Linked DNA regions of Homo sapiens: region 2 is linked to region 1. Evidence: fine-mapped expression QTL. Tissue or cell type: cerebral cortex. Region 1 holds a variant in brackets; the other region holds the start of a gene. All regions are shown on one strand. Distances are between the middles of the regions.

Region 1 (8,106 bases):
ATCCTCCTGCCTCGGCCTCCCAAATTACTGGGATTACGGGAGTGAGCCACCATGCCCGGCATTGGTCATCTTCCTTAATCTCTCTTTTGCAAGTGCTATAGTTTTCTCCAGAAAGGATTTACACATTGTCTGTTAGATTTATTCCTGGGATTTCTAGGTAAGTGATTTTTTAATGCTATTTAAATAATTTAATTTTTTGTTTTTCAGCTGTATTTGTTTTTATATAGAAATACAATAGAATTTCGTAAGCTGATTTTGTATTCAGCAAACTTTATTCCTGGGATATTTACCTCCATTCTTCAAATATTTTCTTTATTTATTTATGATTATACTCTAAGGCTATTATCAAAATGCGGACATTTCTCCATTTCTCTTGTTTTTTAAATTATTGTTTTCTATATTTTTATTCTTTCCTGCTGCTTTCTGGGAGAGGTCCTCAATCTGATCTCCCAATTCACTTATTCATTCTTCATCTGTGGTCAACCTGCTATTTGTCCCATCTATTGTGTTCTTTCTTTCAACTATATATTTTTCATAGCTAATATTTTCACTTTTCTGTGTCTGAAGGAAGGTGAAGGAAGACCCCAGAGAAGGTGGTGATGAACTGTCTGGAGAGATGAGTAGGGGTTTCTCAGGTTGTGAGAAGGAGGAGAATCCACCTCAGCAGTAGCTAAGGCCTAGAAACCAGACGGTGGGGCCCAGCTTGTCCTGCTGGGAACGGCTGGGGCACTGGAAGTAAGATGGGAGGGAGATCAGGTGGAGAAATGCAAGGCTTTATAGGGCCAGGGTCACTGGGGGTACCCTGACTTGCGACCCCCGCAGACTGTGATGGCCTCCAGAAAGACGGCAGCTTCAAGGCAGTGTTGGTCACCCAGTCCTCTGAGGTGAAGAGACCCACCCGCCCCCACCACCACATCATGCTCCAGCTCCATCCCCCTTTCCCCAGGGCACCTGCCAGAAGGTCCTCCCTCCCACCCTCCCTCCCTCCCTCTTCTTCCTCTCTTTTCTTTCTTTCCTCTTTTTCTTTTTTCTTTCTTCTTTTCTTCTATTTCTTCTTTTTATTTCTTTTTCTTTTCTTTCTTCTTTCCTTTCTTTTCTCTCTTCCTCTCTCTTTCTTTTTGAGACCGAGTCTCACTCTGTTGCCCAGGCTGGAGTGCAGTGGCACAATCTTGGCTCACTGCAACCTCCACCTCCCAGGTTCAAGTGATTCTCCTGCCTCAGCCTCCCAAGTAGCTGGGATTACAGACGCCCACCACCATGCCCGGCTAATTTTTAAATTTTTAGTAGAGACGGGGTTTCACCACGTTGGCCAGGCTGGTCTCGAACTCCTGACCTCAGGTGATCCACCTGCCTCGGCCTCCCAAAATGCTAGGATTACAGGCGCGAGCCACACTGTGCCCGGCCCCATCCTGTCTTTCTTGAGGAGGCAGGTTAAGTGGAGAAGGGGACCTAGTCCAGAGGGGTTTAGGAGCTCAGGTTGGCTACTGAGGGACTCAAGCTCTGGAGATGCCTTCAGGGCCAGTCTCCTCTCTGGCCATTTTATTTCCCCAACTACCACCAGGAGGTGCTGCTGGGATTGAACCCCTTCCTGCCCTTTACCTGGCATTTAGGCCTCATTCTCTTCTGAGGGCCTCCCTTCATCTCCCTGCCCTTGGTACGATGGCATCCCGTTTGGTCCTGGGATCAGCTCCAAATAGGAAGGCAGGTAAACAGCCAGACCTTTCCGCTAGACTAAGGCTTAAGGCCAGGCCAAGTCAGCGCCTGTGCATCCATTACTTCCTGCCACCCCTAATTGCAGACATCAGAGTCCCCAGCTGGGCCCGTCCTGCTATGTGGCCTATGTGGCTACCTGCTCAACCTGTAGCCTGGCTTGGGACAACCCCAATACTGATCCCTCTACATAACCAACCATTGCAGACCAAAAACAGAGGCCCAAGGGAGCAGAAAGGATCCCAGGAGGAGCAGGCACATTGAGGGGTACTCAGATGGGAAGGGCCACCCGCCCAGGAACTGCTGAACTGCCTGGGTGCAAGACCTCCCTGTGTCTCAGTGGAGACATCCCTCTGGCTGTTTCTCTGACTCTATTTGGAGGGAGTTTGAGGGTGATGAGAAGGATGGGAAGGGGGCTTGGTAAAAACGTGTTACTTTGTATTTATTTCATATAGTTATTACAAAAAAGAAAATACGCGCTGTTAGAGAATACAGTAAATCTTTAATTTGTATAAATATTTAAATAAACTTCATATTTTTCATGACATACTTGAGCATCTTCTATGAATATGCATTTTATATAAGGTTTTATGCTGGAAACAGCTATACACAATTTCTGATCAAGACTTTTTACTCATGATCTCTTCAAATTCTTGACTATTAATGAGAAATGATTGTTGTTCACACAGGTGGTGGTAAGTGGAAAAGGAGAATTTACCTATGTTTCTACCCATTACCAGGATTTCCATTTCATTCCTGAAATCATTTAAATCCCATTAAACAATTTAATAGTTTTAAAAGAACAATTCTTTCCTCCAGTTATTGGCAGATATTACTCTACTCCTTTTGCTACAAAACGAATGTTTGTCCCGCTTCCCCCAAATTCACAGGCTGAAATCAAATCCCCCATACGATGGTATCTGCAGGTAGGGCCTCTGGGAGATGAATAGGTCATGAAGGTGGAGCCCCATGGATGGGATTAGTGCCCTTAATAAAAGAGTACCAAGAGAGACCTCTTGCCCCTTCCATCACGTGGGGAGACAGTGAGAAGGTGCCATCTATGAACCAGAAAGTGGGCCCTCACCAGACACTGAATCTGCTGATGCCTTGATCTTAGACTTCCCAGCCTCTGGAACTGTGAGAAATACATTTTTGTTCTTTATAAGTCACCCAGTCTATGATGGTTTGTTACAGCAGACTTTTAACAACTTTTATGATTCAAACTATAACAGCAACAACACCTGGAAACCATTTTCACCTAACTTTTCCTTTCTTTTTTTTTTTTTTGTTTCTGATTAAGTACTTGCTCACTTTTCCAAAGTTTAATTTTTGCTTTGAACACCAAATCTTTGTCAGTTCACATTAGTTAATTTTGACATGGTCCTTCCAAATTTCTATTAACTATATTCAGGGATCCAAAGAGTCAGCTAATCTTTCCATAGATCTGCCAGGTGAGAATCATTCAAGGAAAAAATCTTCACCTTTTAAATTTTTTTTGCTACAAACTTTTGAAACTATTCTTCCTTTGGATCAGCTCCCACACTTAAGTATGAAATAGCAGAAAGGGATGTTTTGATCCCTTGTCTTTACACAAAGCTGAAAACAGGTGAGAGGTTAGTGCCTTGTATGTAATTAAGATTCTGAGTATGATACTGATAGTATCATTTCCGGTGGAAATCAGAAAGGCAAACTCTTAAAAATGAGGGCTTCTCTGTGTAAAATAGTAAATGAAATAATGTACTACTTGAATCTCAGGGTTTTCAGAACAAATTCTAGATGCAAAGCCTTTATATATTCCTATCACTGTGGCTTCACTCACTACACAGACTTAATTGTTTTAAAAATTCATAAAAATGCAATGCATGCTCCTGGTTTGGATCATTTTGCTATAAATTATAAGAAACTATTATGATAACTGGTATAATTTGAATAGGGTCTGAGGACTAGGTGGTAGTAATGTACCAACATTAATTTCACGACATTGATGGGTGCATTGTGGTTATGCTGGAAAATGTCCTTGTTTGTAGAAAATGCACACTAAAATATTCAGAAATGATGGGGCACCAGGTCTGCAACCTACTCTCAAATGGTTCAGGAAAAAAGTTATCTGTACTGTTCTTGCAACTTTAATTTTGCAATACCTTCAAAACATATAATAATTTATGAATTATTAATTTGACTATTTTGACCTGGAATAGTCTGCTTGGCATTGTTGCTTCTCTTGATAATTCTCCATGCAAATCAGACATTTAGTCTGAAGAGTGAGGGCTTGACAGGCATCCAAATCCAAATCCGAGATGATCCTCATGACTTAAGCATCATTTGTGGACACTGAGTTAGTCTTGGAAATGCGATGACATTCCAGCTTCACTCCAAAAGTTGTACAGTACGGTATTGTGAGGGTTAATTTTATGTGTCAACTTGAATGTGCCATTGGTGCCCAGATATTTGGTCAAACATTATTCTGGATGTTCTGTGAGGATGTTTTGGGATGAGGTTAACATACATACATACATATATACATACATACATTATTTATTTGACAGGGTCTCAGTCTGTCACCCAGGCTGGAGTGCAGTGGTG[C/T]GATTTCAGCTCACTGCAGCCTCAACTTCCCCAGTCGAGGGTGATCCTCCCATCTCAGCCTCCCAAGTAGCTGGGACTACAGGCGTGCTACCACGCCTGGCTGTTTTTTTTTTTTTTTTTTTTTTTTTTTACAGAGTCTTGCTGTCGCCCAGGCTGGAGTGCAATGATGCAATCTCAGCTCACTGCAACCTCTGCCTCCTGGGTTCAAGCAGTTCTCCTGCCTCAGCCTCCCAAGTAGCTGGAATTACAGACACACAGCAGCACACCTGGCTAGTTTTTTGTGTTTTTATTAGAGGCGGGGTTTCACCATGTTGGCCAGGCTGGTCTCGAACTCCTGACCTCAGGTGATCCACCTGCCTAGGCTTCCCAAAGTGTTGGGATTACAGGCGTGAGCCACCACACCTGGCCTGGGTGGACCTGGTTTCTAATGGCTTACATTTGCATATCAAAGGTTGCCAGCCTGGCTCTAAGAGCCGGGGCTTTACAAGAAACTTTTCCAGAGATGCTTTAAAAAATGAAAACTTCCCAAGGACCCCTTTTCCTCTCTATCTGCCTAAAATAATTTCTTAGTAACTCCTACAACATTACTTCCTGTGGAGATGCCACACTAACTGCTGTTAGGGGATTTTGGGCGGCGACTCCTTCTGGCTACTTCCTGCTGAAAAGGGGCGTTGAATGGGGAATAGCAGCTAGGGCTCCCCCTGGGATCAATCTAAGGGTCCTCGGAAGAATGGCCTGTCCATGTGTGGTTCAGTTTACAGCACCATTTGGAGTTTGATTGCTTCTAGGCGAGAAGAAACAATTCGAGTTATAGTATTGTATATACAGAGTCCAAATATCAATACAAGACATATAAGCAAGAGAGGGCTTAATAAAGGCGTTAACCAATTCCATAAAGAAGACTGGAATTTATTAAAGAGGGTTTGTAGCCACTCAGGGCTGAAGCTGGCATTTTTCCTGAGCCTATCAATAATTTTGATTTGATTTTTAAGTATCTGTAAATTTTCCTTTACTAGAGGTATTAATCCAAAAGCGGCATGTTTCATTTAAAACTGCATCACTAAACCCAATAAAAAGTCCTACCAGGCTCAGTGATAGTAAAACTTTCATGCTTCCTTTTTGTTAGTAACTATTATCCCTGCTATAAGGATAATAATTAAGCAAAATACGACAGCAATGGAAACTCTGTTTAATACTTCAGTTAGAAGGTGCTACTGTGTATAACCCTTTTGCAAATAATAGAGTGAGGATAGCAATTTCCGTAAGTGTGGTGTTGTAGATAATTTCCATCTAAAATTTTACTTGTCAAGATATAGAATTCCCCTTTGGGGGGGGTCTATGAAGTTCCTTGTTTTTATTTTCCTAAACAAAGAAACTTCCGGATTATGGGCACCCTACTCACTTTTATTACCTGGCAGAATTTGCAGGATAATTGCCCAGAACCAGTATATTGATCCAGATTTTTACATTACCCATCCCTTATTTTTTCTTCCAAGCTGCAGGAGACCACTACTTGATTCACAGGAATAAGCAGGGTTAGTCTAAAATGTAGGCGAAAAGCTTGAAAACAATTAATGAGACTAGGACTTAATGACAAATGTATGATAAGCTTTGGAGCACCATTTTTCTCTCTAGTCCTCATTTTTGGTAAAAACAAATTGTAAATAAACTGTAGTCTTATATTTGGCCTGATTATTTGCATAAAGTGCAGCAAGAATGGTTATTTTTACATAGGCCTTTTGGATTGGCTTTGATGAAACTCTGTTTCACAAGGAATTTCAGATAAGACTTTTAAAGCCGAGCCCAGCAATGGGTTTGTATCCTCAAATACCTGTGAACTGGGTGATCCTCTCCTCTTGAGTTCCCAAGATAAACTCGGAGCTTCCAGACCTGTTAGAAAGTGACATTCTTTACTAACCACAGGTTAGGAACCCTGTGCAGGGACTGTGTAGACAAGGTATGAGGCCAGTTCTCCCCAAGGGGCTTTTATTGGCTCTGCATGTCAAGCTTGATTCCTTAAAGAGAAACACACCCTTTCAGTTAAAGCCTTGGTAAAATAACCAGTTTTTCCAATTGTGTCCCGCTGACAAAGAAAAATGGATTCTTATTGCACCGATGCAAACAACTATATTGCCATAAGTTAAGAGTATTCACAGATAGTTCCCAAATTCCAGAGGAACCAGGCAGAGAAATAAACATGCTCTAAATTTTGTTCATAGGAATATACCTTACTCAATTATTAAAGGCCATCAATAGTTTAAAATAAGTTTCTCCTTGACTCTGAAAAACAAAACAAGGATCAGCAGTATTCCAAGCAAAAGATAAAAGACTTGCTTTAACTTTCTGAGTGCAACTCATTTAGTTAACTCTTGTTTTGCTTGATATTTGTGAACATGTCAGTTCTTTAAAAGTTTTCTATGTTCTTTCTCTGTTCCAATGTTACAATCTGTAAAGCTATTAAAACCTGCATTTGAGAACACCTGTTAAAGTTCTTAATATAGCTTGATTACAAACCGTCTTTTGAGAAGGAACAAAACACTTGTCTGCGAATGGCAACATTTCCTGGGTAGTTACAATTAAAAACATGACTGACAAAGAAGTTTGTGTATATCCATGGTCTACGATAACTTTACCTTTAATTATGACTGAGAGCATATACTTAGACATTAGAATTTTAGAAATCCCATACAATTTTTGAACATATATTAGTATTATTCACCAAAATATAACTTAAAGAAGATTGGACATCATTTTGGCAATCTCATGTGACTAAACATGTCAAATAATCCTGTTTATCTCTTTTTTAAATGTTTCAGGGGCCCTATGAACCATCCAAAAAGCCAATTAGGAAGGACAGTTCCCAGACTGCCATAGATTATTTTGCCCAAATGATGACTTAAAAGTCAAAAACCTTTTATTAGCCTTTACTATGACATGGAAATCCTGTTTAAAACCAAATTTTACCCTTGTATTAGTTTGTTAATGTTAACCCTAATTTGTTTAAATAAAACCTTATAGATTATTCCATCTAATCCTAACCAACTTGACCATGAAGTGAAATTTCTACAAACTTTTTATAACCCTTTTACTAAAAGGCAGAGTAGTGTTTTAAGACCTCCTTGCTATGCTTTTATTTCAATGCTTAATTTATGAAAAGACCATATAGATACTAGAGGAGAAGACAGTATAGTGCTTCTACCATGCATTTCATTGCAAGGCAACCCAAAGCCAACTGGCTTATTTTGTAATTAGCCCATCTCTGACGGGAGTCTCATCTCCCAGTGTGGGGTGGGGATGTTTCCTTATTTTTCAGGTGGCCAAGAGCATGCTTTTCTGATTTATAACTATTATTAGCCACCCCTTACAGGGTATTTTTTACCTAGTTATTATACACCAAAGCTCTCTTACAATGCGGAGTAATTTCTGATACCGCAAAACTCAAAACCATCAGATAATGCAAAACAGAACAGAGCCTTTGATTTTGAGAGGGAACTATTTGCTTTTAATTTCTGGGGTTTCATGAGGAAAACAGGTTTTTCCCCAAAACAGGGTCTGTGGCACCTCCTCTATTTTTCCCAAGGAGTCCCATGCTACCAGAAGTTATCTCAGGGCCTTTCATGCATGCACTAAGAGTGGCAAGACAAAAAAAAAAAAAAAATGGAAGAAAATAATTCAGCCGACTGAGAAGAACCTTTTTCCAGAAAACAAGATCCAAGAAAAGAAAAACATAAAGGCCTTTTAAATATACCTAAAACTTGAATATTCACTTTTAATTAAGCTGAGCGCTCTTTAAGAAATTCTTTTTAAATCCCT
Region 2 (8,106 bases), 75 kb after region 1:
AAAGGAAGAGTCGACGTGCCAAACTTCATTGATATCTTATTTTAAGAATTTGCCACAGCCACCCCAACCAGCAACTACCACCCTGCTCAGTCAGCAACCATCAACATCGAGGTAAGACCCTCCACCAGCAAAAAATTACAACTTGCTGAAGGCTGGGATGATCTTTAGCATTTTTTAGCAATATAGTATTTTTAAATTAAGGTAAATACTTTTTTTGATACAATGCTATTGTACACTTAATAGACTATGGTACAGTGTAAACATAACTTTTATATGCACTGGGAAACCAAAAAATTCATCTGACTTGCTTTATTGTGTTGGTCTGGAACTGAACCTGTGATATGCCTGTATGTATCAATGTTAATTTTCTAGTTTTGATAGTTACACTGTAATTATATAATTTCTTTCTTTCTTTTTTTTTTTTTTTTTTTTGAGACAGAGTCTCGCTGTGTCACCCAGGATGGAGTGCAGTGGCATGATCTCAGCTCACTGCAACGTCTGCCTCCTGTGTTCAAGCAATTCTCCTGCCTCAGCCTCCCAAGTAGCTGGGACTACAGGCACAAGCCACCACACCCAGCTAATTTTTGTATTTTTAGTAGAGACAGGGTTTCACTATGTTGCCCAGGCTGGTCTCGAACTCCCGACCTCAGGTGATCTGCCCACCTTGGCCTCCCAAAGTGCTGGGATTACAGGCGTGAGCCACTGCGCCCAGTCTGTAATTATATAATTTCTTAACATGTGGGGAATCTAAGTGAAGAATATATGAGAATTCTTGTATAATTTTTGAAGCTTTTTAAAAGTTTGAAATTATTTTAAGTTTAAAAATTCTTGGCTGGGCCTGGTGGCTCACACCTGTAATCCCAGCACTTTGGGAGGCCAAGGCGGGTGGATCACTTGAGGTTAGGAGTTCAAGACCAGCCTGGCCAACATGGTGAAACCCTGTCTCTGCTAAAAATACAAAAATTAGCCAGGCGTGGTGGTGCATGCCTGTAGTCCCAGCTACTCTGGAAGCTGAGGCAGGAGAATCACTTGAACCTGGGAGGCGGAGGCTTCAGTGAGCCAAGACTGTGCCACTGCATTCTAGCCTGGGTGACAGAGTGAGATTCTGTCTCAAAAAAAAAAAAAAAAAAAACTTAAAACAAATGAAAAAAGGGTTGTTTGAGGAGGAAGAATGTCTGGAAAGGGTAACTAGGAGCAAGCATACCCACCCTCACCCTCACCACCCAGTTTCCCGGTAAGAGGGGTATGAGAGGGCTGCCGGGAGGACAGAGTGTTCAGGGAAAGCCAGGCTGCTACTTAAGCAATGGTTCTCACTGAGAGGTGGGGGCTGGACAATTAAAGGGTGTTTCAGGGCATTTTTTCTTTTTTTTGAGACGAAGTTTCGCTCTTGTTGCCCAGGCTGGCTCACTGCAACCCCTGCCTCCTGGGTTCAAGCGATTCTCCTGCCTCAGCCTTCCGAGTAGCTGGGATTACAGGCATGTGCCACCATGTGGGCCTGGCTAATTTTTGTATTATTAGTAGAGACGGGGTTTTACCATGTTGGCCAGGCTGGTCTTGAACTCCTGACCTCAGGTGATCCACCCACCTCGGCCTCCCAAAGTGCTGGGATTACAGGTGTGAGCCACAGTGCCCGACCCATTTTTTACTGCTTTTTTTTTTGAGACAGGGTCTCGCTGTCACCCAGGCTGGAGTGCAGTGGTGCAATCCTGGCTCACTGTAACCTCTGCCTCCTGGGCTCAAGCAATCCTCCCATCTCAGCCTCCTAAGTAGCTGGGACCACAGGCGTGCACCACAACACCCGGCTAATTTTTGTATTTTTTGTAGAGACGGGGTTTCATCATGTTGGCCAGGCTGGTCTCGAACTCCTGGACTCAAGCGATCTGCCCACCTTGGCCTCCCAAAGTGCTGGGATTACAGGCGTGAGCCATCACACCCGGCCCTGTTTGGGGGGCATTTTTGACTGTGACAATAATTGGAGATCATCAGTGACAACCCTAGCTATGGACCAGGGATGCTCAGCCCTCTGCAGTGTACAGGACAGCTCCACACCACAAAGAATCATACCACATTCCATACAACTTTAGAATATCTCACCAGTAATGTAGGTGAAAAACCTGTTCATTTGTTCTTTTATTCATTCAACAAACATTCATTGAGAAAGTCTACTAGGTGTCAAGCACTATTTTAGGTAATAGGAATGTATCATAGAACAAAAAAGACAAAAATCCCTGCCCTTCTGGAGCTTATAATTGAGTGGGAGAGTCAGACAATAAACAGCAAACATACTAAGCAGTTAATGCTACACTGTGAAAAAGGTGTAGAATACCATGGAACAGACAGAGCAGGGGCATATTAGGGGAGAGCTGCAATTTTAAACAGGATGGTTGGGGGGCCCTCTGAGAAAGTGACAGCTGAGTAGAGGCCTGAAGGAAGCAAGGGCCTGAGCCTTGTGGGTATTTGAGGAAAGAGCATTCCAGATACACGGAATGCAAAACCCCTGAGGCGGAAGTGTGCCTAAGGTGTTCAAGTAATAGTAAGGTGGCCAGCATGGGTAGATAGAGTGAGCAAGGGGGGAGAGTGGTGGGAGATAAGGTCAGGGAGATTAAGAGGGTCTCATCATGGATATTAATATATACTGATTTTTCCAGAAATTTAACGACCATATAAACTGAGAAACTCTTCCACATTGTTTTGTTTAGAACTTTGTGAAGAATTGTTCATTATTTAGGAAAACTGTGTCACTCTACCTGTGGCTTCTGAATCACCAATCAACACACATGTAGCTGTCACTATCATTAAGTGTAAGACCATTTCATCATGTCTTCTAATGGAGTCATATCCCAGTCTTTGCATATATATGTGCGATATATGTATAATATAATATTATATATTACTCTTCCTTTACTACTCTCTATATTACAATTAGGGCATTATATTGGTTTTCAGGGAATTATGGGTGTAGACAGATTCTATTTTCTATCCATTTCATTTTAGAATAGTGAAGCATTTCAAAATACACCTTATTAAAAAAAAAAAGCAATGTTGGGTCCAACAGGTATGAGAACGACCAAAGCATAGCAAGAAAATAAAGGGAGTATTCAGAAGCCAGGATGAGAATGGAGGGAATTTTGCTGATAACTGAAGGTGAGTTCCTTAAGGCCTGGTCAAAGGATTTCAGGATGGAAATAGAAAATAGGATGTCCAGGGCTGTATGGAGACATAACCAGGAGATCTGTGGGCTTCCTGTGGTGACTAACATTATATAGGATAAGGGGCTATTAAAAAGTGGTTTTTAATCTAAGTTGCTCCCAACTTTGGGTGTCTCTACCTGTTTAACAGAGTAGGCTGGGGAGCAAAGAGAGTTCTCTCTTCAATGACACCAGAAGCAACCCAAAGCCAGGCTCCATTTTTTACCCACAGAACAGGTCGGAGCCCCAGGCTAAGCTCATGTCCTCGGGGGTAAAACTTATTGCTATAAACTATGCACCTCTAACCTCTTTAGGGTTGAGAAAGAGACGGGTAAAAAGAGGAAAAACAGTAACAGAGAAAGACAGAAGCATTCAGAAAGATCCAATGGAGGAAGGGTCAGAGACAGAGAAAAGACAGAAACCAAGAGAGACAATATTCTTTTCAGTCAAGATAGTCATTATTTATTGAAAATTTTCTAAGGACCGGGTGCAGGGCAAAGTAATGCACATGCATTGTCTCAGGTACACATTATCAGACCCCCATTTGGCAGATGAGGAAACTGAGGCCCAGGCTGGTGAAGGAGATAGCTCAAGGTTTCATAGCTAGTTTAAACTGGTCAGGATTCAGCATCTTATATCTACTACGTCTCAAAAAGTGGGACAGAGACAGAGATGGGAGAGGGGATGCAAAGACAGACACGCACGCAGACGATCACGTGAGCGGCAGACCTGCATGGAACCGTTTCGAAAGACACTGAGGGTGGGAGGTGGGGCCGCGGGAGGGCAGCAACGGGCACCGACCGCTCCGCAGGGTACTCACCTGGTTGCAGTCTGGGAGCCGCAGGAGCACTCGGCTTCCCTTTGCGACCCGCACGATCCTCCGCAACCCGCTGACCTAGGGTTGAGAGGCCGCCCCAGTAAAAGCTCGCGCAGGCCCCACCCCTCGCGCGCTTCGGCCGGCCTCTTCCCGCTGCCACTCCCCCCACCGCCCCGTCTTTATGGCTTCTCACCGTACACCTCCGGCCGTCGCCGCCGCCGCCCCTGCCGCGCGCGCACAGACACCAGAGGCCTACAGCAAGATCTGAAGGATACGCTGGACGGAACCCTTCCACGGGCTGCAGCGCGAGCAGGGGCACGGGCCTACGCCGCTACCGACGGCTCCCCGGCTCCCATTGGAGGAGTGCCCTTCTGCCTTTCCAGGGATTGGCTGGGGATGGAAACATTTTATTTTTACCCCCGAGGCTTAGAGCCAAACCGAGGAAAACTCCGCCCCTTCGGGGGACTTTGATTGGTTAAAGAGCCAAGCCCACCCTTTAATAGGATTGGCCAGGAAAGGAGTGCTTGTCATGGCCCTTTGCCTGTCTATTCGACAGGTCTTCAGGCGGCTACTTGGGAATACGCAGGCGGGAAGCCGGAAGCCACGCCAGGCGCCGAGTCACTGCACAATCGAGATGCCTGGCTTCTTTGACGTTTTACTCTCCATAAGCCACCTTGCACTGCCACCGCTCTGCTAAGAGACGCGATTCTGCCCCTAGTTTCTCACAGTTCCACACCCACCTGCAGAGATTCCTAAGCCAGGTTTCTCTCGCTCAAAGTGAGCAGAGTTCCTTATTCCATGCATGGAGGATGAGGTGGCTATGGGGATGTGGCGTGTCACCTACCAGTCCCTGATACCTGCTGAGACATTGGTCAAGTGACAACCTCGCTAGGAGCCTCAGTTTAACCATCTGGAAATGGAAAGATGTTTTAAAATTTTCCTCACAATGTGTGAGGATTAAATGAGAGGGCAAATATAGATCAGTTGCCTGGGGCATAAATAATTAAGTTCTCTCCTCCCAATTCTTTCCCAGTATTCAGGCGGACAGAACTTATGGCCCAGAGAGGCAAACTGACTGGCTTGAAGTCACACAGCCAGGCCCCACCCCTCGCGCGCTCCGGCCCTGCCTCTTCCCGCTACCACTCCCCACCACCGCCCCGTCTTTGCGTCTTCTTACCGTACACCGCCGGCAGTCGGCGCAGTAAGACCCAGAATAAAACCCAGGCTTCCAAAGGAAAACTGTTTAAGAAGGAAGGAGAGATGGGAAGGACCCTCCTATTTGCAAGGGTTCTTAATTTGTATTCTGCAGACCTCTAATCGAGGCTGGGGACAGGGTTTGGAGAGGTCCATGAATTTGGATGGGAACAAATTTACACCTTTATGGCCGGGCGCAGTGACTCATGCCTGTAATCCCAGCACTTTGGGAGGCCGAGGCGGGCGGATCACCTGAGGTCGGAGTTCGAGACCAGCCTGACCAACATGGAGAAACCCCATCTCTACTAAAAATACAAAATTAGCCGGGCGTGGTGGCACATGCCTGTAATCCCAGCTACTAGGGAGGCTGAGGCAGGAGAATCGCTTGAACCTGGGAGGCGAAGGTTGCCGTGAGCTGAGATCGTACCATTGCACTCCAGCCTGGGCAACAAGATTGAAACTCCGTCTCAAAAAAATAAAACAAAATTACATCTTTATTTTCCCTCTCCTCTAACTGAAATTTAGCATTTTTCAATAAAGAATGTAACTAGGCATAGTAGCAGCAGTAGTAGCAGTACTGATTGTCACTAATAGAAATCAGAGATTTTCATATCACATTATAGATGTTGCAGATCTCTTGAAAATCATATAATTTCAATCATTATTTTAAAATCATGATAGTCATTAGACCCTCCATTAAATCTTATGATTTAATGGATTAATGGGGAGTACATATACGATTATACTATAGCACATATTTGCTTTTTCCATATTTTAATAACTATATTTCAATGTAATCAATTTCTTTTGTAATTCTAGATATTTTATTTTATGAATTTAAACAATTTTTTTTTTCTGAGAAAAGGTCTGGTGGGGCATGGTGGCTCATGCCTGTAATCCCAGAACTTTGGGAGGTCGGAGGCGGGTGAATCACCTGAGGTCAGGAGTTCCCGACCAGCCTGGCCAACATGGTGAAACCCTGTCTCTACTAAAAATACAAAAATTAGCCGGGCGTGGTGGCGGGCGCCTGTAATCCCAGCTACTCGGGAGGCTGAGGCAGGAGAATTGCTTGAACCCAGGAGGTGGAGGTTGCAGTGAGCCGAGATCGCACCATTGCACTCCAGCCTGAGCAACAAGAGTGAGACTCCATCTAAAAAAAAAAAAAAAAAAGAAAAGAAAAGAAAAAGAAAGGTCCCATTAGGCTTCACTAGATCACCAAAGGGGTCCATGGCACAAAAAATATTAAGAATATTTGTCTTGAACTCTAGGCTCCAGGAGGAAAAAGACTTGCTCTATTGGCTGGGTGCGGTGGCTCACGCCTGTAATCCCAGGACTTTGGGAGGCCGAGGCGGGCTGATCATGAGGTCAGGAGATCGAGACCATCCTGGCTAACATGGTGAAACCCCGTCTCTATTAAAAATACAAAAAATTAGCCGGGCGTGGTGGCAGGCGCCTGTAGTCCCAGCTACTCGGGAGGCTGAGGCAGGAGAATGGCGTGAACCCGGCAGGCGGAGCTTGCAGTGAGCGGAGATTGTGCCACTGCACTCCAGGCTGGGCAACAAAGAAAAAAAAAAAAAGACTTGCTCTATCTTGTTTCCCTGCTGTATCCCTATCACCCAGTTCAGTACTTCAGGCACACAGTAAGTACTCATAAGTGTTTACTGAATGAATAATAGGATTCCTTCCCAACCATCCTGCACACCCCCAACTGGGGGAGCCAGTGCCAGCCCTTTGGGTCACCTAAGGAGGGACATTCTTGAATCTAGTTTTGTCCCTGCCAATCCGATTCTACTCACAGAAGTAGGTGGCACTTTAAAGGTCTGGTCCCAGGAAATCCCAGGAACCTCCCACCCAGGAGCAGGGCCCTCTGCTGCAAAGGAGCGAGGGCAAGCTAGGAAGCATATGAAGACAAGTAGTTTCAACATGGGAACAGGCCCTAGGGCACATTGGGCCCATGACTCTTCATCCTCCTGGTTTCTGTTTAAGGTCTCAGCCAATGGGGCCTGTCTTCTCTGGCCTTCAGCGAAGACAGTATCTTGGAGCTAGATGTGACCTTAAAGACCTAGAACAGCCCTCTCTTTCGGAGGTCCAGACTGAAGAGTGAGGGCACAGGGAACAAGATGTTACTCTGGGCAAAGAACATCCTGTCCTCACATGGCTCAGCCGAGGACATGAGCACCCTGGCCAACTATACTAGAATACTATGATTGACTCTTAAGAGCATCACTGAAGATGAAGACCAGAGGCCCTCTCTAACAGGGTGGGTGAAGAAGAGTCTCAAATGCCAGGATGAGGGGCTGGGGATTTGATTGGGGGGACAGAGAGGAATCAGGGAAGAGCACAGTGAAGGCCAGACTTCAGAGACCTGCTTCAAGGCTAGACTCTGTCTTGAGACCTTAGGCAGGTTGCTTCTCCTGGACTGATCCCCCTGCACGATAAGCCTCAGTTTATAGATAGGAAAACTGAGGCCCTCTAGAGAGGACAAGGAGAGTCATGTTGTGAGGTAGGGCAGACTGAGGCAAGAGTAACCAGACTGGCTACTCTGGCTCTGATTGGCTGGGATCCTTTGGCAGGCTGACCTCTTTCTGGCCTACTCCGGCCTACTCCATTGCCTTTGCCCCTGCTGCTTTCCCCTCCCCTCCTCTTCACCGCATACTCATTGGGGTTGGCTCCAGATATTGCATGTAGATGTCTCTTTTCTCTGGGATCCTGCACTCTCAGCTCTGGCCTCGAGGTATTGTGTTACTTTGGGCAAGACATTCCCCTTTCTGGGCCTCAGTCCTCCCTGCCCACCTCTGACAGCACATCAAAGCCTCCATCCTGTCCCCCCCAAAACATTTATCAGAATCATTGGAGAGACATGTCAAGGATCTGGTATTCCAACCATCTCACAGAGGAGGCCCAGAG

What was found. PIP is the estimated chance that this variant, and not a neighbour inherited with it, causes the effect.
Region 2: KANTR starts here. The variant in region 1 is fine-mapped to the expression of KANTR in cerebral cortex (GTEx, PIP 0.97).

What each region holds. Positions count from the first base shown.
Region 1 is chrX:53,164,998-53,173,103 of GRCh38, reverse strand. No RefSeq gene overlaps it. Among named protein-coding and RNA genes, the nearest start is that of MIR6895, 26 kb to the left of the region's middle. The variant C/T (reference allele first, on the strand shown) is at 4,294.
Region 2 is chrX:53,090,377-53,098,482 of GRCh38, reverse strand. KANTR (KANTR integral membrane protein) reads right to left here and starts at 4,341. Exons shown (of 3, transcript NM_001397448.1): 1 at 4,199-4,341. RefSeq lists a silencer at 4,013-4,162 and enhancers at 4,223-4,342, 4,653-4,712, 4,425-5,249.